Linked DNA regions of Homo sapiens. The protein of the gene in region 1 purifies or fractionates together with the protein of each later gene. This does not show direct contact. Each region holds a gene or a part of one and is shown in the gene's direction. Other genes may lie near its edges.

Region 1 (3,500 bases):
ATAAAAGACCTCGGCCTCCCAAAGTGCTGGGATTGCAGGCATGAGCCATCGCACCTGGCTAGATTGTTAAATCTCATAAATTCCCTTTCCTTCACACCATCAACCCTGTGTTTCTGCTTTTTGTTTAAATAGTATAATCCCTCTGGAACGGAAAAGCATTGTTTGGGAACATTATTAGTCCCTATACCCACAAGGCAGGACAAATCACGGTGTACTTTTGTAGCATCACACACAGGATCATATCTTGGGAATTTCCTTTGGGAGAATTCCTCAAACGAGCCACAGCCTCAGGGGTGCCACATTTTTTTAAATTAAAAACTTCAAAAAATTTTCAATAGCTTTTGGGGTACAAGTGTTGATATGGTTTGGATTTGTGTCCTGCCCAAATCTCATGTTGAATTGGATGAGGGTCCTGATGGGAGGTGATTGGATCATGGGGGCAGATTTCCCCCTTGCTTTTCTCATGATAGTGAGTTCTCATGAGATCTGATGGTTTAAAAGTATGTGGCAGTTCTACCTTCTCTCTCTTTCCTGCCACCATGAGAAGAAGGCCCTTTCTTCCCCTTCACCTTCCGCCATGATTGTAAGTTTCCTGAGGCCTCCCAGTCATGCTTTCTGTTAAGCCTGAGGAACTGTGAGTCAATTAAACCTCTTTTCGTCATAAATTACTGAGTCTCAGGTAGTTCTTTACAGCAGTGTGAAATGGACTAATACAAGTGGTTTTTAGACACATGGATGAATTGTATGGTGGTGAAGTCTGAAATTTTAGCGCACCCATCACCTGAGTAGTATACATTGTACCCATTATGTAGTTTTTTATCCTTCACTCTCCGTCCCAGCCTCCCACTTTGAGTCTCCAAAGTCCATTATATTATACCACTCTGTATGCTTTTGTGTATCCGTAGCTTAGCTCCCATTTATAATGGAGAACATACAATATTTGGTTTTCCATTCCTAAGTTACTTCACTTAGAACAATGGCCTCCAGGTCCATCTAAGTTGCTGCAAAAGATATTATTTTGCTCTTTTTTAGGGCTGAGTAATATTCCATGGTGTATATATCCACCACATTTCTATCATCCAGGAGTGATGCAACTGAACTGGTATTTTTTCCCTACACTAAGTCTGTCACTTTACTACCTACTTATTTATTTCTTTTTGTTTTCTAGAAGTTCCTCCTGCTAGTTTAATTGGTAAAAATATTTTAAGACCTCACCCAGGTCAATGAATATGTTGGCGATTTAAATTTAGACATGTAGTATTGGTTTGAAAAAAAAGGTTTGGAGTGAGGATTCAGTAATTCAGGCCTTTGGGATCCTGGGATAACCTGAAGAGTTATCCCAGGATTCCAGAGAATCTTAGGGAAATGTATCTTTGTCATGCTAAATGGTTTTACCCAAAGAGACCCAGGGTGTGGATGGCTCTCCCTCTAGCACCAAAATATATGGCAGCATGGATTTAGGATGCCTATGGGAAAAAGAAGCCACAGCAAAGGCACAGTCAAAATGAATGGCTAAAAAAAATTCTCATAAGCCGTTAAAACTATCTTATGCCACTTCAATTGCTGTAAATTTTATAAAGAGTTAATAGAAACACATTTTTGGTGAATTGATCATTTGACAAATTGATTGCCTCTGGGAGGGCTTGTTGGGTCAGCCTCGTGTGGACCTATTTGTCTGCTGATTGTTTCTGGGTTCCCAGCTGGGCAAGGTGTCTTTGGGGTGGGTTCAACTGGCCATAGACTACCTATCCAGAAAGCTTCCTACACTATGCCCACATGGCCACAGTTTCACCAGCCAGATGGGAAACAGTATGCAATTCAACACCTTCTGCTGGTTCAAAAGGCAATCTGTCTTAATTGGATGTTATCCAAAAGCAGGTCAGAAATCACCCTGATAAGTGAAAAATCCACTCATGGTGATCACTGATCCAGGATAATAATAACCAGTCAATTTTGTATAGCTATTCAGCTGATCTATGGCTCATCTGAGTCCATGGATTTAAAAAAATGTTGTGCCAATGTTTACTGGCATGTAAACAAAATTTTTTATTTCCCTGTGTGTTTGTGTGTGTGTGTGTGTGTTTTAATGGAATGCTTCGCGAACGTGCCTGTTGTCTTTGCACAGGGACCATGATCATTTTCTTTGTATCATTCCAATTTTGGTATATGTGCTGCTGAGACGAGCACTATTTCCTAGTATTGACCAAGGTCTAGAATGTAAGAAAATGACTTCCTAGAGAAAAAAAACCAACTCGTTCAAGAAAGCTAGTAAACAAGTTAATTGTGAAGGCAGAATAACAACATAGAAATTTCACAGACTGTTAAGATTAGTGGCCTTTGCACCTAGGCTTGCTGTCTGTTTAGCGTTAGTTCCTTCCATGCATATATAGATTTTCTGTCTTGTGCATTTTATTATCTTGCTGTAGACTCTCCCCTTTCTAGTCTCTCTCTTAGTCTGTATCAATTGCTGTCATTTGATATCTTTTATTGATGCTGATTCTACTGAAATGAGTAGCTGCATAATAGACTAGTTCGCTTGATGTTAAATGTTGTTCTGTGCAACTAATACCCTTGTGGAGTTGAGAAATATGCTTGTGAACACAGAAATGAGTGATTTGCAGACTATCTAACTGTGTCCCAGCAAACCAGGCTGCTTAGCATCACTCTGATGTTAGTCCTTTGATTGAACTACAAAGCGTGAGAAGCACTTGTATCTAAGGTTAGATACAGTTTGGATATTTCTTCTGTATATTTCTTTAATGAGGATCAGCAGATATGGGAGTCTGATAACATATTTTATTCTGATTTACTCACAAAGGAGATGGATAAGACTACTATTTCAGAACATCTTTTCACTGAGGACCTTTAAAGCATTTACTGTGGATTAGACATTAATCCTAACCTATCTAAGACAGACCACAGGTACTTTGATTTCAAGAGAGAAGTACTGAGGCACAGAGATCAATACATCACGTACAGGCCACTTTGCTGGCTTGTGAAGCTCACAGTTTACATTTTCAGCTCTCTGGGCCCTGAATTCTTGAATGTCTTATTCCTTGTTTTTCACTAACCTTCCTAATATCCTTTTCCCTCTGCAGAGGAAGTCACTGGCAGCCTCTTTTATTTTGTGCATATGCAAAAACCAAACCAAAACAACAAACCTAAACCAACCAAACAAAAGTCATTTTTTTTTTTAATACCAGCTGAGGCATTGCCTCTTTTAAAAATTAACGTTTTTATTTTGAAATAAAATCTACAGAGAAATGGGTAATACTTGCATTTACAATTTAGCAAATGGTTTTGAAGTGTTTACTCTGTAACTATTCCCTTCCCACACATATTGTTGGCACCAGGAATCTCCCACCTTGTATGTTTTTGCATCGAAACTTCGCCTAATTTTTAAAATTGAATATTTTCTTTTTTTTTTTGAGACAGAATCTCGCTCTGTCACCCAGGCTGGAGTGCAGTGGTGCGATACCAGCTCACTGCAACCTCTGCCT
Region 2 (3,500 bases), on another chromosome or scaffold:
TTAGTCAGACTCTGTAACAGAAAGTTTAAGTGTTTATATTATTTGACTTTATTCTATCCTAACTTAACCTGTAGGATTCAATGCTGGATTTTGAAAATCAGACACTTGATCCTGCCATTGTATCTGCACAGCCTATGAATCCAACACAAAACATGGACATGCCCCAGCTGGTTTGCCCTCCAGGTTAGTAGTGGTACATTTTTATGTGAGAGAGAAATATAAGGCCAGTACTTTCAGGTTTTAAAAAGATTGTGAAAATAAATTTTGTTTATTTTAATGACTGTTTAATTTTGACTCTTAGGTCTTTTAATTTGATAGAAAGAATGTTATTGTTCCTATGATTTGAATTAAAAATGTAGTTTATAACTGTTTATTTTTAAACTTTTCATTGGCATGTAGATATAGAAAAATATACGCAAGTTTAATGAGTTTTTATAAACTGAAAACACCTGCAGCTAGATTAAGAAATGAAACATTACCAGTACCCCAGAAACCTACGTTGTTTCCTTTCAATCACTAGTTACCCTCACCCCTAGCGATAGCAACCACTTCCGTACTTGTAACTGTAATAGACCAGTTTTGTCTGTTTTTGTAACTTTAACAAGTGAAATTTTGCTTGGCTTTTAAAATTTCAAAATTAATCTAGGAGTAAAAATAATAGAGGTGCCTTTTTTTGAATGCTTTTAGCTTTCTAGGAGAATTTCTGGATTTTATTACCTTAAAAAAATACACAGCAATGAAGTGGGTAAGGGAATATGTAAGAGGCAAAGGGAAGAGAGAAACCACAAGACAGTTTCAGACTCTTTCTGGACTTACACCATTATTTGAAGTAGTAGCACTAAATACAGTTGGTGCCTTCCATTGGGTTAAGTGGACCTTCTCTCCAGGACTATTAGTGATTGTGAGTCATCTTGGTTTTTCCCAGAACACATCAGTTTTAGTTGCACAAAAGTGGAACTAAATAAAATAACCTATTTAATGTTGCATGATGTTAAATATCATAAAATAAATTGCTGAGTAAAAGTATGTTTAATGACAGTTAATTTGGTGTAAGGTAGTTAGGATTTTTCTGAAGTAAAGGGAGCTCATATCTCTCACATTTTTTTTTTTTTTTTTTTTTTGAGACGGAGTCTCGCTCTGTCGCCCAGGCTGGAGTGCAGTGGCGCAATCTCGGCTCACTGCAAGCTCCGCCTCCCGGGTTCACGCCATTCTCCTGCCTCAGCCTCCCAAGTAGCTGGGACTACAGGCGCCCGCCACTACACCCGGCTAATTTTTTGTATTTTTAGTAGAGACGGGGTTTCACTGTTTTAGCCGGGATGGTCTCGATCTCCTGACCTCGTGATCCGCCCGCCTCGGCCTCCCAAAGTGCTGGGATTACAGGCGTGAGCCACCGCGCCCGGCTCTCACATTTCTATCAAGAGTTTTAGAAAACAGATCAAAGGTGACACCTACAAGAGAGCAATCATGGTTTTTAGTGTTCATTTTCTGAGCTCTACCAAAGGAAGAGAGTAAGTCGTTTTCTCAGCTGGGGAGTTGTGTGAAAGTCAGTATACATAGCACTGATAAAACCTGTAAGGCTATTTAGTTATTTACATAATGCTGAGTCCATTAGACTCTCCAGTGAAAATGGGTACTTTCTAAATGACTAACCAAAGATCGTCGTTTTGATTATCTGTTTAATCATTGTTGGGAAGGGAGGTGAGAGAGTGATGGGAATTGTTAAGAAGATGCATGCTGAGTTGAATATAGGCTGTTAAAAAGTATATATTATTTATTTGTTTATTTAGAGACGCAGTCTCGCTCTATCGCCAGGCTGGAGTGCAGTGGCGCATTCTTGGCTCGGCACGCTGCAACCCCTGCCTCCCGGGTTCAAGGGATTCTCCTGCCTCAGCCTCCCCAGTAGCTGAAAGTACAGGCACACACCACACTACACCCAGCTAATTTTTGTATTTTAAGTAGAGATGGGGTTTCACCATGTTGGCCAGGATGGTGTCAATCTCTTGACCTCGTGATCCACCCGCCTCGGCCTCCCAAAGTGCTGGGATTACAAGCATGAGCCACTGTGCCTGGCCGAAAAGTACATATTTTAAATTTTCTTTTTCTCTAGAAACACTTGAAATTGAAAGTTGGTTATGTTAACATATATTGAGCCGGGTATGGTAGCTCATGCCTGTAATCTCAGTGCTTTGGGAGGCTGAGGAGGGAGGATCACTTGAGCCCAGGAGTTTGAGACCAGCCTGAGCAACATAGACCTCGCCTCTACAAAAAAATTAAAAATTAGTCAAATAAAAAAGTTAGCTTGGCAGGGTGGCATGCATCTATAGTCCCAGCTACTCAAGAAGCCAAGGTGGGAGGATTTCTTGAGCCCAGAGTTTGAGACTACAGTTAGCTATGATGGCGCCACTGCACTCCAGCCTGGGCAACACAGTGAGACCCTGTTTCAGAAGAAACAAAAGGTCAAAATGGAATACTATCTGTCTGAGGTCTAGAGTATGAATAATGCCACTTTATTGTACAGCTTTAAAAGTCTTTTTTCATGGCACTGATTATTTGTTAGTGCATTCTATTAACATTTTACTTTACTTTTGGAAAAAACAAGATGAAACCAATTGTGAAAGTAAACTATTAAATAATAACCACTGCCGGTAAACCAAAATGCTCACTTGAAAGCTAAAATTTTATCTGCATTTCCCAATTTACTTTCATGATTGCTAAAAAGTTTATTTATGGTTTGGCTATAGAAATTTACCTTTAATTGCTGGGCATGGTGGTTCATTCCTATAATCCCAGCACTTTGGGAGGCTGAGGTGGGCAGATTGCTTGAGCCTAGGAGTTTGAGACCAGCCTGGGCAACATGGCGAAACCCTGTCTCTACTAAAAATACAAATATTATCCGAGTGTGGTGGCACACACCTGTAGTCACAGCTACTTGGGAGGCTGAGGTGGGAGGATCACTTGAGCCTGGGAGGCAGAGGTTGCAGTGAGCTAAGATCACATCACTGTACTCCAGCCTGGGTGACAGAGTGAGACACTCCCCCCCCCCCCCCCCCCGCAAAAAAAAAAAAAAAAAAAAAAAGCCTTTAATAGCGAAATAAAAGGTATTTAGACGCGTCTCTCTAAAAATTTAATTTTGTTTGACAAAAATGTTTTGGTCACCTTTGCAGTTCATTCTGAATCTAGACTTGCTCAGCCTAATCAAGTTCCTGTACAACCAGAAGCGACACAGGTAAGAGTGATAAAACTATTTTCTTCAGGGCCAGGTTAGGTGGCTCGTACCTATAATCCTAGTACTTTAGGAGGCTGAGATGGGAGGATCACTTGAGGTCAGGAGTTCAAGACCAGTCTGGGCAGTGTAGCGAGACACCATCTCTATTTTAAAAAAATAATTAAAAAATATTTTTTCACTTTTGTTTTAATTGGTTCCTTGGTTTCTTTCTTAGCTTATGAAAGAAAATAAGAATTTCATCAGTGTCCAAGTCTTCTGTTGGAATTCAGCAAAT
Region 3 (3,324 bases), on another chromosome or scaffold:
CTAATGCTTCTTTTTTTAATTTTTATTTATTTATTATTATTATTATTGAGACGGAGTCTTGCTCTTTCGCCCAGGCTGGAGTGCAGTGGCGCTATCTCAGCTCACCGCAAGCTCCGCCTCCCAGGTTCGCGCCATTCTCCTGCCTCAGCCTCCCAAGTAGCTGGGACTACAGGCGCCCACCACCGCGCCCGGCTTAATATTTGTACTTTTAGTAGAGACGGGGTTTCACCGTGTTAGCCAGGATGGTCTCGATCTCCTGACCTCGTGATCCACCCGCCTCGGCCTCCCAAAGTGCTGGGATTACAGGCGTAAGCCACCACGCCCGACCACAACTAATGCTTCTTGACCCTTGGCTAGTAAGTAGCAGGGTGGAGGCTGTAGGCAGCTCTAATAGTCCTAAAATATCAGGCAGGGCTTGGGTAGAATGAGTAGAGAAAGTGATAGATCCATTAACGCATGGAAGAGTATCTGATTCTGTTAAAATACCTTCTTCCAATCTGAACTTTACTTTAAATCCAAATGGATTTCCAATCCATTTGCTCTCATTATCATCAGTATACTCGAGCACTGGGATCAGAGAAAAGAGATCCCTGTTACAGCATAGGAAAGTTATTTATTTATTTATTTATTATTACTTTTTTTGAGATGGAGTTTCGCTCTTGTTGCCCAGGCTGGAGTGCAATGGCGAGATCTCGGCTCACTGCAACCTCCACCTCCCAGGTTCAAGCAATTTTCCTGCCTCAGCCTCCCAAATAACTGGGATTACAGGCATGCGCCACCTCGCCTGGCTAATTTTGTATTTTTAATAGAGACAGGATTTCACCATGTTGGTTGGGCTGGTCTTGAACTCCTCACCTCCTGATCTGCCTGCCTCGGCCTCCCAAAGTGCTGGGATTATAGGCGTAAGCCACTGCACCTGGCTAGGAAAGTTCTTTTAGCACCTAGGTTTTGTTCTGAAGGAGAGGTAGGCTAGAGAGAAATGGATTGTTAAGGCTTACCTGTGGGCTAATATAAGGGAATGGCAAGGTATTAATTAAATAGTGAGGGAAAGTTAATCAGCAGCCTTGAATGGCTTTGTGTACAAAGCCCACCACTTGTGTACAGAGAAAGTAGATTGGTCTTTACCCTTGGGGAAACTCCTAGGTATGGGGACAGATTCTGGAAAAGAATGATTATTTGCAATTCAGTGGAACTGGTGAGGGAATGCTAATAGGAAAATCCAAGCTCTGACTGAGGCACGCATGGTGAGATGCCAGAGAGCTTCTGCTCCCCTCTACCACCACCTTGTCCTCCCCCTTTCCCCATGGTGGCAGCATGACACAGCAAGGCCCTGTTGAGTAGGCCTTGGATGCCCACAAAGGGTCTGGACAAAGGATGTTTGGGCGTGTCTGTGTGGCTCCGAGAGAGTGTATCTTTCTAATCTACATATTTGCTAATCATGTATCTCTAAGAACAGAGTGATAATTAGATATTGCCTTTGCCTAAAATACCTGGATAATTTAAAATGAAGGATAATGGGAAGCATTTATTGAATATATATTGTGGTACAAGGCACTGTCAACCCTTTAAGTAAATGATACCGTTTAAGATAATGATAGATGTAAAGATAGATGAAGTAGGGGTGGAGAGCATTTGTGGAGGGGAAGGGGAAGCTAGCCAAAAAAGGGGTCTTTTGCAAAATTTGGAGTATTTGATAATTAAATCCATACTATATTAAATCAAAAATTTCATTACTATTTACATTAGTGAATAGCACTTTAACTTCAATTTTCTGTGTAGTCTTATTTTATGTTCTTGACTTGATTTTAATGCCACATATGCTTGCATGCATGTGTTTCTTGAATGTATTTGGTACCCTGTGTACATGTCTCTGGGTCAATGACATAGAGGTTTTAGGCCTTCTGAGTTAATATTTCATAACATTTGCTTTAGCTTTTTAAATTGCAAGATAGCTCTGCCAAACCCTCAGGGACTATTTGAGCAGTTTTTTATTCATACTCTGGTTTTAAGACAAGGGGTCAATTTGTCAAAGAGCTTTTTGTTTTTCTCAGATTCTAGCTTGCTCTCTACTGCCCTTTGCTTTTCCCCATTCAGAAGGCAATAAGGCCATCCCTATACATAAAATACATTAACAGTGATCTGTAATCCCAAACTGATGGAGTTAGGTAAAACTCTACAGGGTGTTGGGGGAGATGCTGGAGGAAATAGAGTAGATGAAGCTGAGTAAAAGTTTAAGGAAGTCATCTGCAAGAGGTGAGTTTATAGTAGGATTTAGAAGGCAAGAAGGAAAATAGAAAGCAGAAAAGTCACGGAAGGTCTTTTCACACATACCATGAGCTATTAAACCAAAGTCAGGAGGAAGTCAAGTATTTTTAAGTATAATAGGAGTTTGGGCTAGGGGAACGGGGGTTCCTCTATAGACTTGGAGTTTTTTGTTTGTTTTGTTTTGTCTTTTTGTTTTTTGAGACAGGGTCTCACTCTATTCCCCAGGCTGGAGTGCAGCGGCACAATCTCAGCCCACTGGAACCTCTGCTTCCTAGGCTCAAGTGATTCTCCCACTCAGCCTCCCAAGTAGCTGGGACTACAGGCGTGCACCACCAGGCCCAGCTAATTTTTTGTATTTTTTGTAGACGGAGTTTTGCCATGTTGCCCAGGCAGGTCTGGAACTCCTAGTCTCAAGTCATCCGCCTGCCTTAGCCTCCCAAAGTGCTGGGAATACAGGTGTGAGCCACTGAGCTCTTGAATGGAGTCCTGAAATGTGGAAAGTCTTTTTTTTAAGACAGAATCTTGCTCTGTTGCCCAGGTTGGAAGGCTCACTGCAACCTCACCCTGCTGGATTCCAGCAATTCTCGTGCCTCAGCCTCCCTAGTAGCTGGGACCACAGGCACAAACCACCATGCCTGGCTAACATTTTGTATTTTTAGTAGAGGCAGGGTTTCCCCATGTTGGACAGGCTGGTCTCAAACTCCTGGCCTCAAGTGATCCACCCACTCTGCCTCCCAAACTTCTGAGATCACAGGCATGAGCCACCACACCTGGCTGAAATGCGGAAAGTATTTTAAGGTGGAGAATGGAGAGAGTTAAGCAAGACAGGAATGAGCATAACTGTAACAGAGGATATACCACTGCTGGGAAGAATGGGCTAGATTTTGGAAGGCCTTGAAAATCAGACCCAAGATCAATTTGATGCAATAGATGGTAAATAAGTCATTCCAAGATGGGAAGTTTAGAAAATAGTAGAAATTCGGCCGGGCGCGGTGGCTCACACCTGTAATCCCAGCACTTTGGGAGGCCGAAGCAGGCAGATCACGAGGTCAGGAGATC
Region 4 (3,500 bases), on another chromosome or scaffold:
TTTTGACTTGCATTTATCAAAGATCCGTAGAAACAGCAAAATTTGTAGAGTTTACATATTGGCATGGAAATATTTATGGGTTTCCTGAATTTCAGGACTGTATTTTTGTTTCATCTTGTTTTACTTTTTTGTTTTGTTATTTGGTATTTGAAATGATAAAATATGTTCAATATCTGTATTAAAAAGGTACCTTTAGCTCTTACCAGTAGAAACTATAAATGAATTCAGTAGTAGGAATTTTTTTCTGGCAGCACATATAATACTGCCACTATTTGGCATTCAAATATAAATTTTGAACCTTATTTCTATTTAGGGCACTATACAGAATCACATTATATTGAATAATAGCATTTAAGTCTTCTCTTAGAACAGTCACAATGTGGGTGAGAGTCATAGTACCCTATGGTGAGTTAGCCTGCTGTTTTGCAACAGAGAGATGGTTTACATGTATCCTATCCCTGGTATTAGATCTCTCCAACTGTATCTCAATCCCTAGTTATATTACAGAACGGTAATCACCAAAAACTGCTCAGAGGTCCAGAATAATGAGAATTTGTTTAAAACACCTAAATTTTGGCTAGTCAAGTACTTAGTAGAAAGTGTTTCTTATTAGGAATATTTCTCAGGTCACTATAAACTCAAGACTAATAGAGATAATACCTGGGACTTTTAATTCTACATTCCCTTGTAAGGGTGTTAATTATCAGTAAATGCAGAATAACTACACAGATACTGCCTTTCTCCAAAATTGGTCACCAGTGTGGAGAAGACTTCTGTTGTGATGGGAATTTTATTTATTCAGTAAATATTTATTGAGTACCTGCCATGTGCCAGGCACTGTCTTAAGTAAAAAGTTATTGATGATGTAACAGACATGATTTTTGCCCCCTTGGAGTTTGCATTGTACTGCTATATGTAGAATGTTTAAAAAGTAGGTATGGTTTTGAGTAGAGACAGAAGAATTCTGTTTTCTTCCTGCTTCTGAATGTGTCCACCATTTCTGAGCCCACGGGAAAGGCATAGCTTCTGTGAGGGAGTAGATGTGGTGAAGATGTCTATCAGTGACTCTTAATATGTGGTTCAGAGGTTAGGGTGGTTTATAAGGAAGCTTGGAAAGCAGGCAGCAGAGGTTAGATTTGATAGCTAAAGAATGAGAATCCATCAGTTCTTGAGTACTAGAGACATGCTTTATGTTGCATTTTAGAAAGATTTAGTAAGATGGTGGTAGGTAAAAATCTGTTAAAAAGAGCTAACTGAAATCAGAAACCAGCTGTAGCAGTGCTGCAGACAGAAAGTAGAGTGAAGATAAGGATGGAGAAAAAAGGGCAGATGGAAATGTTTTATAGGAAGTGTATAAGCAAGGGAAAACTAAAGATTATCTTAAAATTTCTAGCATGAGAAATTGATAAAACACAGAAATTGGAGCAAGGAAAATAGTTAAGGAGAAAATTCCATTTAGGAGTGTAGTGTATGTTTAGTTTACAATATGTGATGTCTTTGGAGGATAGTTACCAAATATTTTTACAAGTAAGTTCAAAGAAAAGCAAGCCTCTAAAGGCCATTTAAAAGCTAAAGGTTTTGCGAGGCCGCGGTGGGCGGATCACCTGAGGTTGGGAGTTTGAGACCAGCCTGAACAACATGGAGAAACCCCGTCTCTACCAAAAATACAAAATTAGCTGGGCATGGTGGCTACATGCCTGTAATGTATTACAGGCATGGGATTACATGCCTGTAATCCCAGCTACTCTGGAGGCTGAGGCAGGGGAATCACTTGAACCTGGGAGGCAGAGGTTGGGGTGAGCCGAGATCGCACCATTGCACTCCGGCCTGGGCTGTTAACAAGAGCGAAACTCCGTCTCAAAAAAAAAAAAAAAAGAGCTAAAGGTGCTGTTAAGCTGCCTGTGACAGTCCTTTGCACCTAGTAGACTCTCAGGAAAACCCATTGGCAGATATTGGAGAGAACACATTATGTAGCATGTATTGTTTGAGCAACTTGGATGCCAGCAAAAGTAGCTGAAACGTTTTGTACTTAACGTATTTAGGAGCTGGGGTTGTTTTGGGTAATGTTAACCAGACTAGCCAAGGTACCAGCCCACTTATTAATATACTAATTATATCCTACCCTATTGTGCAAATAGTTATTACCCCTTCTTCCATTGATTGCTTATGTAAAGAAATATATTTAACAAGGTGAAAGGAGGGCTGTATCATAAAAAGAAGTATAGTTTAAAGCCACTGAGGGGAAGATCTTAGATTTCTCATTGAAGAAATTGATTGCTGACTTAACCAAGAAATTTGGTAGAAAAGGGGAAATAAGCAGTTTTACTAATAGAAAGAGGACATTTAATAAGATAAATAGAAATATGTATAACTTATTCTTCTCTAGTGACAGAAATTGAGGCAGCTTATAGTAAAACATACAGAAAGTTTGCAGTTTAAAATTTAAAATATAAACAGATATATAAAGTTATATAAGGGATAAGGAATTATGTTTACACTTCAAGATATTTACTGTTGCTGAACATTTATTTGAAGACAGCTTTTTTGTGTGGAGGTTGAACGGATAGGAAATGTAATGAACGTGGTAATAACCTTTTTAAAAATTCTCAAGAATAGGAACTTAGGCAACATAAAAATTTATCAATGTATTTCACAGATAAAGATTGGGAAGATATAAAAAAGATGCCTGAACATTCAACATTAATGAAAGATTTCAGAAGAAATACGTAAGTTGGAAAAAAAGAGACTCCTTGTTGATTTTTGCTTTACCAGAATACTCAGTGTAAGACTGAATATTCAACATAATAAAATACTCAATATAAGATTACTCTAATAAATAATTTTACTTATTTACTCTAATAAATATTTTTCATGATGACAGTCTTTATTTCTTAAGATGCTTAAATGATTATATACAAAAGTGACTAATATTAGCAGCTGATTTGGATATAAAACAAATTCATGTCTTTCCATATTGACTACTTTTTGGAAGCTAGACATTAGTGAGAAGTATCACAGCTGAATAAATAAGAATCTAAATAAATAAACTTTGGTAATAGCCACTTGCTCACCAATCTAGGTTACAGTAATTTTAAGCAGGTTTTAACAGAGAAGAATGGATATTTCACCTGTTTACAATGCAAAGCCAGGGATTGGGAGAGTTTAGTTTGTATACCTATGACAAAAGTATTTTACACTTATTGGTAAGGCTGAATTAAACTTTTGACCCAGATGTTATTTAAAATAATTGTTAAAATATAATTCATGTGAAAAAAAAAGCTGTTTAGTGTCTGTTATTCATGAAATTGTCTTACATTTAATCATCGGTATCCTTTCAAAAGTGACCATTGTGGATATTGAATGAAATAGAAAACTGATTTAATTCTACTCATTTTATGCTCATAGTGTTTTCAATATATATTTTATATCGGTTATGATCAAAATAATTCTCATCAGAAGGACTTTAGCCAATGTACAATTAACCTCAAGTCTAATATAGC
Region 5 (3,500 bases), on another chromosome or scaffold:
AAATTGCATTAAATGCAGAAAATAATTTGGGTAGTAAATTTTGATCAGTAGTATGTAATTATCTTGAGCCCCATTTTTTTAAATACACTTTTTCCATCTCCTTTGGCAAGAGAACTTTGGTAAGCTGTTTACTGAATTTATTAAAATTCGTCCTTTCTAAAATATAGACCATCTATTCCTAGGCCCTTGGACTGGACAGTGCCAATGAGAAAGGCTTGTATAGGAGGGGTGAAGCCCAGCTGCTCATGAACGAGTTTGAGTCAGCCAAGGGTGACTTTGAGAAAGTGCTGGAAGTAAACCCCCAGAATAAGGCTGCAAGACTGCAGATCTCCATGTGCCAGAAAAAGGCCAAGGAGCACAACGAGCGGGACCGCAGGATATACGCCAACATGTTCAAGAAGTTTGCAGAGCAGGATGCCAAGGTGTGTGCAGAGCCTGATGACTGCAGGTGGATCAAGAGCCTGACCATGCCCCTTTGATTTTAGGGGACAGGAACAGCTAAACAACCCAAGAGGCTCAAGAGCAGGGAAAACGATTTCCAATCTAATCTGAGGCTGCTTTGGATCCAAAGGTCGAGTAGGGCAGTTCCAGTCACCAAAGGCACACGTCATGAGAGATGAGAAAACTAAATTCCCTTCAGATGTATTAGATTGGTTCAAAAGTAATTGTGGTTTTTACCATTACTTTCAATGGCAAAAACAGCAATTTTGCACCAACTCCCCCCGCCCGCCCCCCGGGCCCCTGCCCGAGTCAGAGTCTCACTCTGTCACCCAGACTGTAATGCAGTCGTGCTAACATGGCTCACTGCAGCCTTGACTTCTCTGGATCAAGTGATCCTCCCACCTCAGCCTCCTGAGTAGCTAGGACAAGCACACTACCACACTGGGCTAATTTTTTAAAATTTTTTGTAAAGATAGGGTTTCACTTTGTTGTCTAGGCTGGTCTCGAACCCCTGGCTTCAAGGGTTCCTCCTGCTTTGGTCTCCCAAAGTGCTGGGATTATAGACATGAGCCACCATGCCCAGCCCTTTTGTCATTTTTGAAAAATTGTAAACCCATCAGGATTTTTTTTTCAAGTAAGACTTACGATTTTCCCAGGAAATGGGATGTTATAGGAGCCCCATCATCACACCTGTTATCTTGAGGGTCGGCAGCCAGCCTGAAAAATGTGGCAGGAGAGGTCTGTCTGCAGAGAGGGCGGCCTCCCTACAGCATAGTTGGCATTCTGGTCCTGTCCCCAGTCTCCAGGAATGCCCAGACTTCATTATCCCACAGCTGTCCCATGTGTCAACCAAAGAAAGGTGAAGCTCCCACTCTAACTATTGGTAGCACAGCCCTGACCTACCCAGCTAGATATCCTAGAGAAAATCATTGCAATACCTCGTGTTTGGGACCTGATACACAGTCTGGAGGAGCCAGGAATTATTTCACTTCTTTATTCTCTAACCTTCTTGATTGCTTATTTCTTCCTTAGGAAGAGGCCAATAAAGCAATGGGCAAGAAGACTTCAGAAGGGGTCACTAATGAAAAAGGAACAGACAGTCAAGCAATGGAAGAAGAGAAACCTGAGGGCCACGTATGACGCCACGCCAAGGAGGGAAGAGTCCCAGTGAACTCGGCCCCTCCTCAATGGGCTTTCCCCCAACTCAGGACAGAACAGTGTTTAATGTAAAGTTTGTTATAGTCTATGTGATTCTGGAAGCAAATGGCAAAACCAGTAGCTTCCCAAAAACAGCCCCCCTGCTGCTGCCCGGAGGGTTCACTGAGGGGTGGCACGGGACCACTCCAGGTGGAACAAACAGAAATGACTGTGGTGTGGAGGGAGTGAGCCAGCAGCTTAAGTCCAGCTCATTTCAGTTTCTATCAACCTTCAAGTATCCAATTCAGGGTCCCTGGAGATCATCCTAACAATGTGGGGCTGTTAGGTTTTACCTTTGAACTTTCATAGCACTGCAGAAACCTTTAAAAAAAAAATGCTTCATGAATTTCTCCTTTCCTACAGTTGGGTAGGGTAGGGGAAGGAGGATAAGCTTTTGTTTTTTAAATGACTGAAGTGCTATAAATGTAGTCTGTTGCATTTTTAACCAACAGAACCCACAGTAGAGGGGTCTCATGTCTCCCCAGTTCCACAGCAGTGTCACAGACGTGAAAGCCAGAACCTCAGAGGCCACTTGCTTGCTGACTTAGCCTCCTCCCAAAGTCCCCCTCCTCAGCCAGCCTCCTTGTGAGAGTGGCTTTCTACCACACACAGCCTGTCCCTGGGGGAGTAATTCTGTCATTCCTAAAACACCCTTCAGCAATGATAATGAGCAGATGAGAGTTTCTGGATTAGCTTTTCCTATTTTCGATGAAGTTCTGAGATACTGAAATGTGAAAAGAGCAATCAGAATTGTGCTTTTTCTCCCCTCCTCTATTCCTTTTAGGGAATAATATTCAATACACAGTACTTCCTCCCAGCATTGCTACTGCTCAGCTTCTTCTTTCATTCTAATCCTTGCTATTAAGAATTTAAGACTTGTGCTTACAATATTTTTGACCTGGAGTGGATCTATTTACATAGTCATTTAGGATCCATGCAGCTTTTTTTGTCTTTTTAAGATTATTGGCTCATAAGCATATGTATACTGGTTTATGGAACTTTATTTACACTCCTCTATCATGCAAAAAAATTTTGACTTTTTAGTACTAAGCTTAATTTTTAAAAACAAAATCTGTAGGGTTGACAAATAAATAGTTGCTCTTCTACACTAGGGGTTTCACCTGCAGGTTTGACACGCAGTTGCTCGCTTTTCCTGCCCTGTCAAGCTTCTCTGTTCTGGCGTGAGTTGTGAAAGAGTTGAAGACAGCTTCCCATGCCGGTACACAGCCAGTAGCCTAAATCTCCAGTACTTGAGCTGACCATTGAACTAGGGCAAGTCTTAAATGTGTACATGTAGTTGAATTTCAGTCCTTACGGGTAAACAGATTGAGCATGGCTCTCTATTCCCTCAGCCTAAGAAACACTCATGGGAATGCATTTGGCAACCCAAGGAACCATTTGCTTAAACCTGGAACATCTCACCTTTTTAAATCCTAAAAAACACTGGCAGTTATATTTTAAATTAGTTTTTATTTTTATGATGGTTTTATCAAAAGACTTTTATTATTAGATTGGGACCCCCTTCAAACCTAAAAATCAAGTTATTTCCTTTTATAATACTTTTCTTCCCCATGGAACAAATGGGATCAATTTGTGAGTTTTTTCCTTTAATGATAACTAAAATCCCTCTAATTTCTCATTTATGCTTTTGTCTTTTTTATGAAATATTTCTTTTAAAAGCCCCAGTCTCACCTACGAAATATGAAGAGCAAAAGCTGATTTTGCTTACTTGCTAAACTGTTGGGAAAGCTCTGTAGAGCATGGTTCCAGTGAGGCCAAGATTGAAATTTGATACTAAAAAGGCCACCTAGCTTTTTGCAGATAACAAACAAGAAAGCTATTCCAAGACTCAGATGATGCCA
Region 6 (3,500 bases), on another chromosome or scaffold:
ATTGTCAGTAACATAGTAAATTGTGGAGTTCAACTGGATAGTTTCATAAAATTTTTTAAAAACAAATTAAAGGCTGTACATGATTTTACTTTATTGAACGAATCACAAACAGTAATATTAAGAACATACAATTAAACTTTATAGTTTATTTCCTACTCACTGTTTAGGGATACTTTTATCTATTATTGCAATATGACTCTTACAATTTCAAGGTCCATAGGCAATATTTTTATAGGAATGATGTAATAAACATATTTGTGTTTCCTAGCACTGCATCTAAATTCCTATTTGTCAGCTGTACTTTGAACAGTTTAAGTCAACTGCCAACCCATTTGATTTTATAGCTTTGTATGATATGGACAAAGTATTTAAAAATTGAGTCTTCTTACAATGGATTAGTTCAATATTTACTGCCTTCACAAATCACTGACCTTGTTTTTTTAGAGGCCATTTCTGGAAAGCATATCTGAAGTGAATACTATAGAATAGAAAAAGGTTGAATATGTGGAACTAACATATCAGATTTAAATGTATGTTTTAGTGAAATTACTGTTTTTTTATCTCTGTTTCTGAAAGGGAATTTCCAGTTTTTCCATAATAAAATCTAAGCTCTAGACATTGCCTTAGATAATACATAGTTAACTAATGCAGTTTCAACATATCTATTCATTTTGTATTGAATTAGTTGCCAGTAGACCTTAATGTATGTAATTTATGTATTTTTTAAAATAAGATCATTTACAATCTTACATCGTAGTGACATTCAGAATCTTTTCTTTTGCAGCCATTTCGTAGAGTGACGTTTTCTGTTGTGAGTCAGCCTCAGGACCCACATCAGGGGTCACTGCAGAGTTGCTATGACAGCGGGCTGGAGGAGTCAGAAACACCAAGCAGTAAGAGTTCATCAGGGCCAAGACTGGGTGCGCTTCCACTCCCAGAGGACAACTATGAAAGGACCACGCCGGATGGCAGTGTTGGTGAGGCAGAGCATATGGAAAATGGTAGGGGCAAACACAACATCCACACACATAATCACGCTAGTGAGCCGTAATAAGTAGACTCGCGAAGGTCAGTCTAAAACCAAAATAAAATAGCTGACATTAAAACCATTTTATTTTAAGTGATAAATATTTGCTAAAATACAGAAATGCCAAATAAAGGAACATAACTCTGTAGATAAAATTCACCCAAATTGCACCATCATTTTAAAACATCCTGTCAGAAATAAACGCACTTATAAATAAATCAGAACAGGGCCCACTATGAAGGAAGCTAAATAAGTGCAGAATTCCTAAACAATAGTCACCAAGAAAGGTCTTGTCTAATTGTTTTCTTCTATTCATTTTTGTCATGCAACTATTTCTTCAATTGCAGCTGTCCAGTCTTAGTGAAAGGAAATGAAAGAAACATACCTTGCTCTACCTTTTCTTGTCCTAGATGTTTAGAAAAGCATTTTCAAACCTCTCCTTTCCTATGATCACTGAATAGGGTCAAAAGAGAACAGTACTACTTTGTTCTCCATAGTATGCAATAAATGCTATTAGAATTTCCCTCCTATTCAAGTATAAGGTTTTTTTTTATTTTTATGTGAGAGAAAGGAAGGAAAATAAATCATAATACTCCATATTTTTATACTGTTTTGAGGTGATTCTCATAATTACCACAATTGGCCTTGTATACATTTTCTTTTAAGTTATACATTTAGATTGCAAATAGCACTTATAAAACTTTCCACATTTGTTTATATTCCCAGAGATAATTTGGTGATTTATTTTCTGGATTTTGAGTCATAAGTAAATGCCTGAGGAATAGGTTTGTGTCAAATAATGGAATGGTAAAATTCATCCTAACTTCATTATTCTTTCAAATATGAAGAGAGAGATGGTTAAACAGAGAGAAAGGAAAGGAATCACACACATTTTATCCCTAGTAAAACTTGCAGTGGATTTATGTCTTTTGCCATCTCAACCCCCGAGTGACATAAGACGCTCTAACTTTTTGTTATATATCCGTTTCTTTAGTGCTGATATATATGCAAGTAGAGCATATTAATGCAGGAGAAAGACTGATTTTCTTCTGTAAGTTTACCTATGAATATTAAAATCCAATATTAGAATATAATATATTATAAAGGACCCCAAATGAAAGTATTGCTAAATTATATTATGCTAAATAATTATTTATCCACATTGTTCTTGGTTAAGAAAATATGATATCAGGGTCTGATGATTGACGTCCCTCTTGATTAATTTTGCAGAGTTAAAATGGCATTTTGCCTTATGGCTATAAAAGCATGCTTATCTGTGTGTATGGTGGTGTGTGCTTATGTGGATGGGAGTCTGGTGTGGTTTCTAAGAGTTACATTTTTTTTAGTAATTTTTTTAATGGGCATATAATTTTGGTATGAATTGCAATGCTGATGAATATATATTTAAGGCAGATATGTTTAAAATTATTTGGAAAAAGAAATTAAACTAAAAATACTGTAATTACATACATACTATGTAATTACATATGTAATTTGGATGTCAGCTTTATTAAAAAAGGACTTTGTACCCCTGGCATTATAATCATTTTTCAATGTTAGTTTCTGTTTTATGAGTTTATGGGGATTCATCACCTTTAAAATAAGAAATAAGTGATGAATAATTAAAAGATAATTATGTAATTACATGTATGTAGCCACATGTAATTGCATGTATGTAGTCACATGTACTATAGTGTATTACGTTACATATGTGTAACGTGTAATTACGTATGTGTGATATATGTAATATATAATATGTATATAGTACATATAATTACTTATATGTACATATGTATGTAATTACAGTATTTTTAATATAGATAGATGATAAATAGAGCATACCTAGGAAGGCAGGATTAATTTAATTTAGGGGTATTACTACATCTGAGATTACCTGTTCATGAGAACATATAATTTTGTTTGTGTTTTTAAAAGTGCTTATTCTTACTGTAAAGCACAGAATGTACAATTAAATCTTTATTTTTTGGATGTCAGCTTTATTAAAAAAGGACTTTGCACCACTGGCATTATAATCATTTTTTAATGTTAGTTTCTGTTTTATGAGTTTATGGGGATTCATCACCTTTAAAATAAGAAAGAAATGATGAATAATTAAAAGATAATTATATATGACAAACACATATCGGTTACCTTTTAGGAAACACACATGTCATGGAAAACTTAACAGGTGAGCTTGTTAATAAAATATAAAGTATACTGAGAAAGAGTTCCAAAAAACGACTTTTAATTCTTTTTTAGAACCAAGTTTTTAAGGCCTGTCAAAAGCAAGGGTCATGATAATGTAACGGATCTTTCCTGATTTTGTATGTGACCAACACTTGAAAGTCAGAGTTTATATGACCATTTGTCATCTACTGGCTGTGATTCATGTTAGCCTTGATCTATAGGTAATGACAAAATGAGATGCGATGCACTGTGGCTGATCTAAATGTAGCAGTTGACCTTTGAGTAA
Region 7 (3,500 bases), on another chromosome or scaffold:
ACACAGAGTCAACTGTGAGCTCAGCTGTGGCTGAGAATTAATTTTAGCTCTGGGTTTCTGGCAACTAAATCCAAAAAAGGAAGCACAGCAGGTGACACAGCTGACATTGTCTCATAAAGGGGAATATATGCTTTTAATATATTTAAAAGGGAGCTCTCCCCACCATCCTGAGTGATTCGTATTTATTTTTAATTTGTACTTTGCTTTGCTTTTTAAACTTTGCTTTTTTTTTTTAGCAAAAACTAATATAACCACACTCTTAAAAGTTTAAAACTAGAGTTAAAAAAAAATTCTGTATGTTCATCATCTTAGTGTAATTATTGTCAGCACTGAGGTATTTTTTTCACCTTTGTTTCTTTTTGCTGACTCTCATTATTGTAATCATGGTATCATTTATATCTTTTTCCATTGAACATTATATTATAAACCATATTTCACATTTAGTTTCTAAAATCCATAATTTTTAATAGCTCCATAATGTGTAATTAATTCTTTATGCAACTTTATAATGGCCAATAATCAGGAAGCTGTTTCTTTTCAGCTTTTTGCTCTTAAAAGGAATATTGAACATCTTGATTCACTTAAATTTGTCTGTTTCTCACTTTGATTTCAGAATAGATTCTCAAAAAGCAAAATTACTGGGTCAAAGAGTGAAGAGATTTAAGCCCTTTTTACACACTTCCAATTGGATTAATGCCACCAGCAGTGTCTGAGAGCGTAGTTTTTGCTGCACTTTTGCCTGAAATTAAACTTTTCAAAGAAACGTAGCAACTGAATGCTTATTTTATGAGAGACTCAGGGCTTTAAGAACTACTTTATAGGAAATGTAAGAACAGCTCTGAATTTGGCCCTTCTATTCTACACTGACGTAAATTGTCAGCGTAAAACAGAGAAACCTGCACACATATCACGCCAGGACTCACGCATAGAGGAGCCGGAAGGCAGGACATTAAAATGCAACTCAGCGCACGCTGCACTGTTTCCCAGGGGAAGGGTGGTTAGCCGAAACTCATGCCACACCCATTACTGCTTTTTGAGATAAAATAGGAAAAAAGTATATAATTCTACATAGTTGAGTAAGTTCACACTCACACTTGTTACACAGGGCTTCATGTACCAGTGGCCGGTTTTATTTCTTAAATGGGTAGTAGGTGTGTAGAGATTCATATTATTTTTCATATGCTTTTGCATGCCTTAACTCTGTCAAAAAAAAGATATCAGTTGTCTCAAAGGTGTGGTCACGGAAAAGGCAGCTTTCATGGAGAAGGTTTTCAGCAGGTCATGGCTGTCTGGCCCCGGCCCAGTCTGCCCCAGGCCTGGCAGCAACTGAGGGACCCAACCCAGTCTGGATGGGTGCCCCGAGGAGGCCTCACCCACCAGCAGTCAACGCAGTGCAGCCAGGACCTGGCCAGGTCTCAAGAGAGAGTCGAAGCCATGAACTGATCTTTATGACATGAGTGCATCACAAACTATTGAAGTGGTGAGAAGCTAGTTTCTCACAGCTGCCACTTTAGCAATTGTGAGTTTTCTTTGGTTTATTTGAATTGAACATTGGGAGAGTGTAAGGTCTTTCTAGCTGTTGACAAATGGGATCACGAAGATTAAGACAAATTAAGACAGACCTATGGTGCCCATTTAGTTATCTAATTGTCCCTGTAAGCCTTCAAAAATGTTAGAAATGACCTTTGGCACATAAAAACTGTCCCCGAAATTGCTTCTTGCATCTTTGCTTCATCTGACTTGCAACCCTATTTTTGATTCAGAATGTTTTAAGTTTTCAACAGGTTGTACTAACATGATATGTCTTTAATAGGAATTTTAGCAAGTTGACACCATTTTGAGTTAAGAATTGTGACTTGTTTAAATGAATATGCTTATTTGTTAAAATAACATATTATGGAGAATGGAGAAGTATCCAGAATGTATAAACATTCTATATTGTTTAGCTAAATAGTTTTTAAGTCGTTCTCCAGTAAAAGAGGCAGAATTGTCTGTGAACTGGAGATGATCCATCCTCACTGGCTTTATACCATATTGTTCCAGTTAGAGTTGGTAAATTACAATAAACCAGTGTCATTCCATTTCCAAATAGAGTTTGAAATGATTTAGGAAACACTCACTTACATTAGTAGTGTATACTTTTAAAAGTGAAAGTTACCTGTAATTCCAGCACTTTGGGAGGCGCAGACAGGCAGATCATCTGAGGTCAGGAGTTCGAGACCAGCCTGGCCAACATGGTGAAACCCTGTCTCTCCTGAAAATACAAAAATTAGCCAGGCGTGATGAGTGCCTGTAATCCCAGCTACTCGGGAGGCTGAGGCAGGAGAATCACTGGAACCTGAGAGGCGGAGGTTGCAGTGAGCCGAGATTGAGCCATTGCACTGCAGCCTGGGTGATGGAGTGAGACCCTGTCAAAAAAAAAAAAAAAAAGAAAACTTCCCAGTTGGGCAGTGGCTAATGCCTGTAATCCCAACACTTTGGGAGGCTGAGGCAAGTAGATCACTTGAGCCCAGGAGTTGAAGGTCAGCCTGGGCAACATAGTAAGACCCTCTGTACAAAAAGTTTTTTTAAATTAGCTAGGCGTGGTGGTGTGCACCTGGGGTCCCAGCTATTCAGGAGGCTGAGGTGGGAGGATCACTTGAGCTAGGGAGGTTGAGGCTGAGGCTGCAGTGAGCGGTGTTTGCGCCACTGCACTCCAGCCTGGGCGACAGAGCAAGACCCTGTCTCAAAAAAAAGAAAAGAAAAACTTCTGTAATGAATTGCTGGTTGCATAGCAGTCATACCTACTCTATTGTTGGAAAGTTTTGTGGGAAAAGAATGAAGCACCAGAAAGGTAAACGTTCTTCCAGCCTCTTTCTGTATTTCTAACTTTTTCTTCCAGATTCAGGGCTAGAAGAGGGGGCAGGAGTGCACAGACCCTTGACACTTATTCCATCACCCATTGTGAGCTTGAAACCAGAGGGGGGACTCAGAGAAAACCCTGGGGACCTGTTGCAGCCCCACTGCCAAAAAGCTTAGAGTTGGCAGCCTCCTGCTAACTGTCTGGAGTCACTGACTAACATCACACCGTATCAGTACAGAAGATGTTCAGTTCACAACTCCCAAATATTTAACTGGAACATCTGTTGCTATGAGACAGTGGCAAAATATTTTTCAGAAGTCACCAGCTTCCTCCTTTCATCAAGAGCACAGAAAACTTCATGGCTATTCATGCTATAAATATTGAGGAAGCTGGGTAAATGGTGTGAGCTGCAGAGGGAGTCAAGTTCAGCATCTCCGTCCACTTACAGCTAGCTCAGGTCTGATTGATTGGGGTTCTATGTTTGCCAAAAGCCACCTACTATTTTCAGTTGTTGGTTTCTGCTATTTTAATGAAATAGGTCCCAGGCTATTTTGACAGCTGCCCTGGGTCTTTCCTTTGTAAAATGTGACAGTTCTAGCACCGAGTGTGGACCAGCCCCGAGCTTGTTCCTCCCAATACCTATGTTGTAGTTTTGCCA

Evidence for each region.
Region 2: the proteins of DNAJC12 (region 1) and CAPRIN1 purify together in Homo sapiens (affinity purification with mass spectrometry, with the first as the bait; one large-scale study listed by BioGRID). This does not show direct contact.
Region 3: the proteins of DNAJC12 (region 1) and MLLT11 purify together in Homo sapiens (affinity purification with mass spectrometry, with the first as the bait; one large-scale study listed by BioGRID). This does not show direct contact.
Region 4: the proteins of DNAJC12 (region 1) and CDK8 purify together in Homo sapiens (affinity purification with mass spectrometry; one large-scale study listed by BioGRID and IntAct). This does not show direct contact.
Region 5: the proteins of DNAJC12 (region 1) and FKBP5 purify together in Homo sapiens (affinity purification with mass spectrometry, with the first as the bait; one large-scale study listed by BioGRID). This does not show direct contact.
Region 6: the proteins of DNAJC12 (region 1) and PCDH7 purify together in Homo sapiens (affinity purification with mass spectrometry, with the first as the bait; one large-scale study listed by BioGRID). This does not show direct contact.
Region 7: the proteins of DNAJC12 (region 1) and TUBB6 purify together in Homo sapiens (affinity purification with mass spectrometry, with the first as the bait; one large-scale study listed by BioGRID). This does not show direct contact.

The regions. Positions count from the first base shown.
Region 1 is NC_000010.11:67,807,189-67,810,688, reverse strand, and holds part of DNAJC12 (dnaJ homolog subfamily C member 12), read left to right. Parts: intron 1-3,500. UniProt on the Homo sapiens protein: Probable co-chaperone that participates in the proper folding of biopterin-dependent aromatic amino acid hydroxylases, which include phenylalanine-4-hydroxylase (PAH), tyrosine 3-monooxygenase (TH) and peripheral and neuronal tryptophan hydroxylases (TPH1 and TPH2).
Region 2 is NC_000011.10:34,086,231-34,089,730, forward strand, and holds part of CAPRIN1 (caprin-1), read left to right. Parts: intron 1-74; coding exon 75-183; intron 184-3,164; coding exon 3,165-3,226; intron 3,227-3,500. UniProt on the Homo sapiens protein: mRNA-binding protein that acts as a regulator of mRNAs transport, translation and/or stability, and which is involved in neurogenesis, synaptic plasticity in neurons and cell proliferation and migration in multiple cell types.
Region 3 is NC_000001.11:151,063,397-151,066,720, forward strand, and holds part of MLLT11 (protein AF1q), read left to right. Parts: intron 1-3,324. UniProt on the Homo sapiens protein: Cofactor for the transcription factor TCF7. Involved in regulation of lymphoid development by driving multipotent hematopoietic progenitor cells towards a T cell fate.
Region 4 is NC_000013.11:26,393,629-26,397,128, forward strand, and holds part of CDK8 (cyclin-dependent kinase 8), read left to right. Parts: intron 1-2,656; coding exon 2,657-2,726; intron 2,727-3,500.
Region 5 is NC_000006.12:35,573,916-35,577,415, reverse strand, and holds part of FKBP5 (peptidyl-prolyl cis-trans isomerase FKBP5), read left to right. Parts: intron 1-182; coding exon 183-422; intron 423-1,473; coding exon 1,474-1,581; 3' UTR 1,582-3,500. UniProt on the Homo sapiens protein: Immunophilin protein with PPIase and co-chaperone activities. Component of unligated steroid receptors heterocomplexes through interaction with heat-shock protein 90 (HSP90).
Region 6 is NC_000004.12:30,919,369-30,922,868, forward strand, and holds part of PCDH7 (protocadherin-7 isoform d precursor), read left to right. Parts: intron 1-784; coding exon 785-1,001; intron 1,002-3,500.
Region 7 is NC_000018.10:12,314,741-12,318,240, forward strand, and holds part of TUBB6 (tubulin beta-6 chain), read left to right. Parts: intron 1-3,500. UniProt on the Homo sapiens protein: Tubulin is the major constituent of microtubules, a cylinder consisting of laterally associated linear protofilaments composed of alpha- and beta-tubulin heterodimers.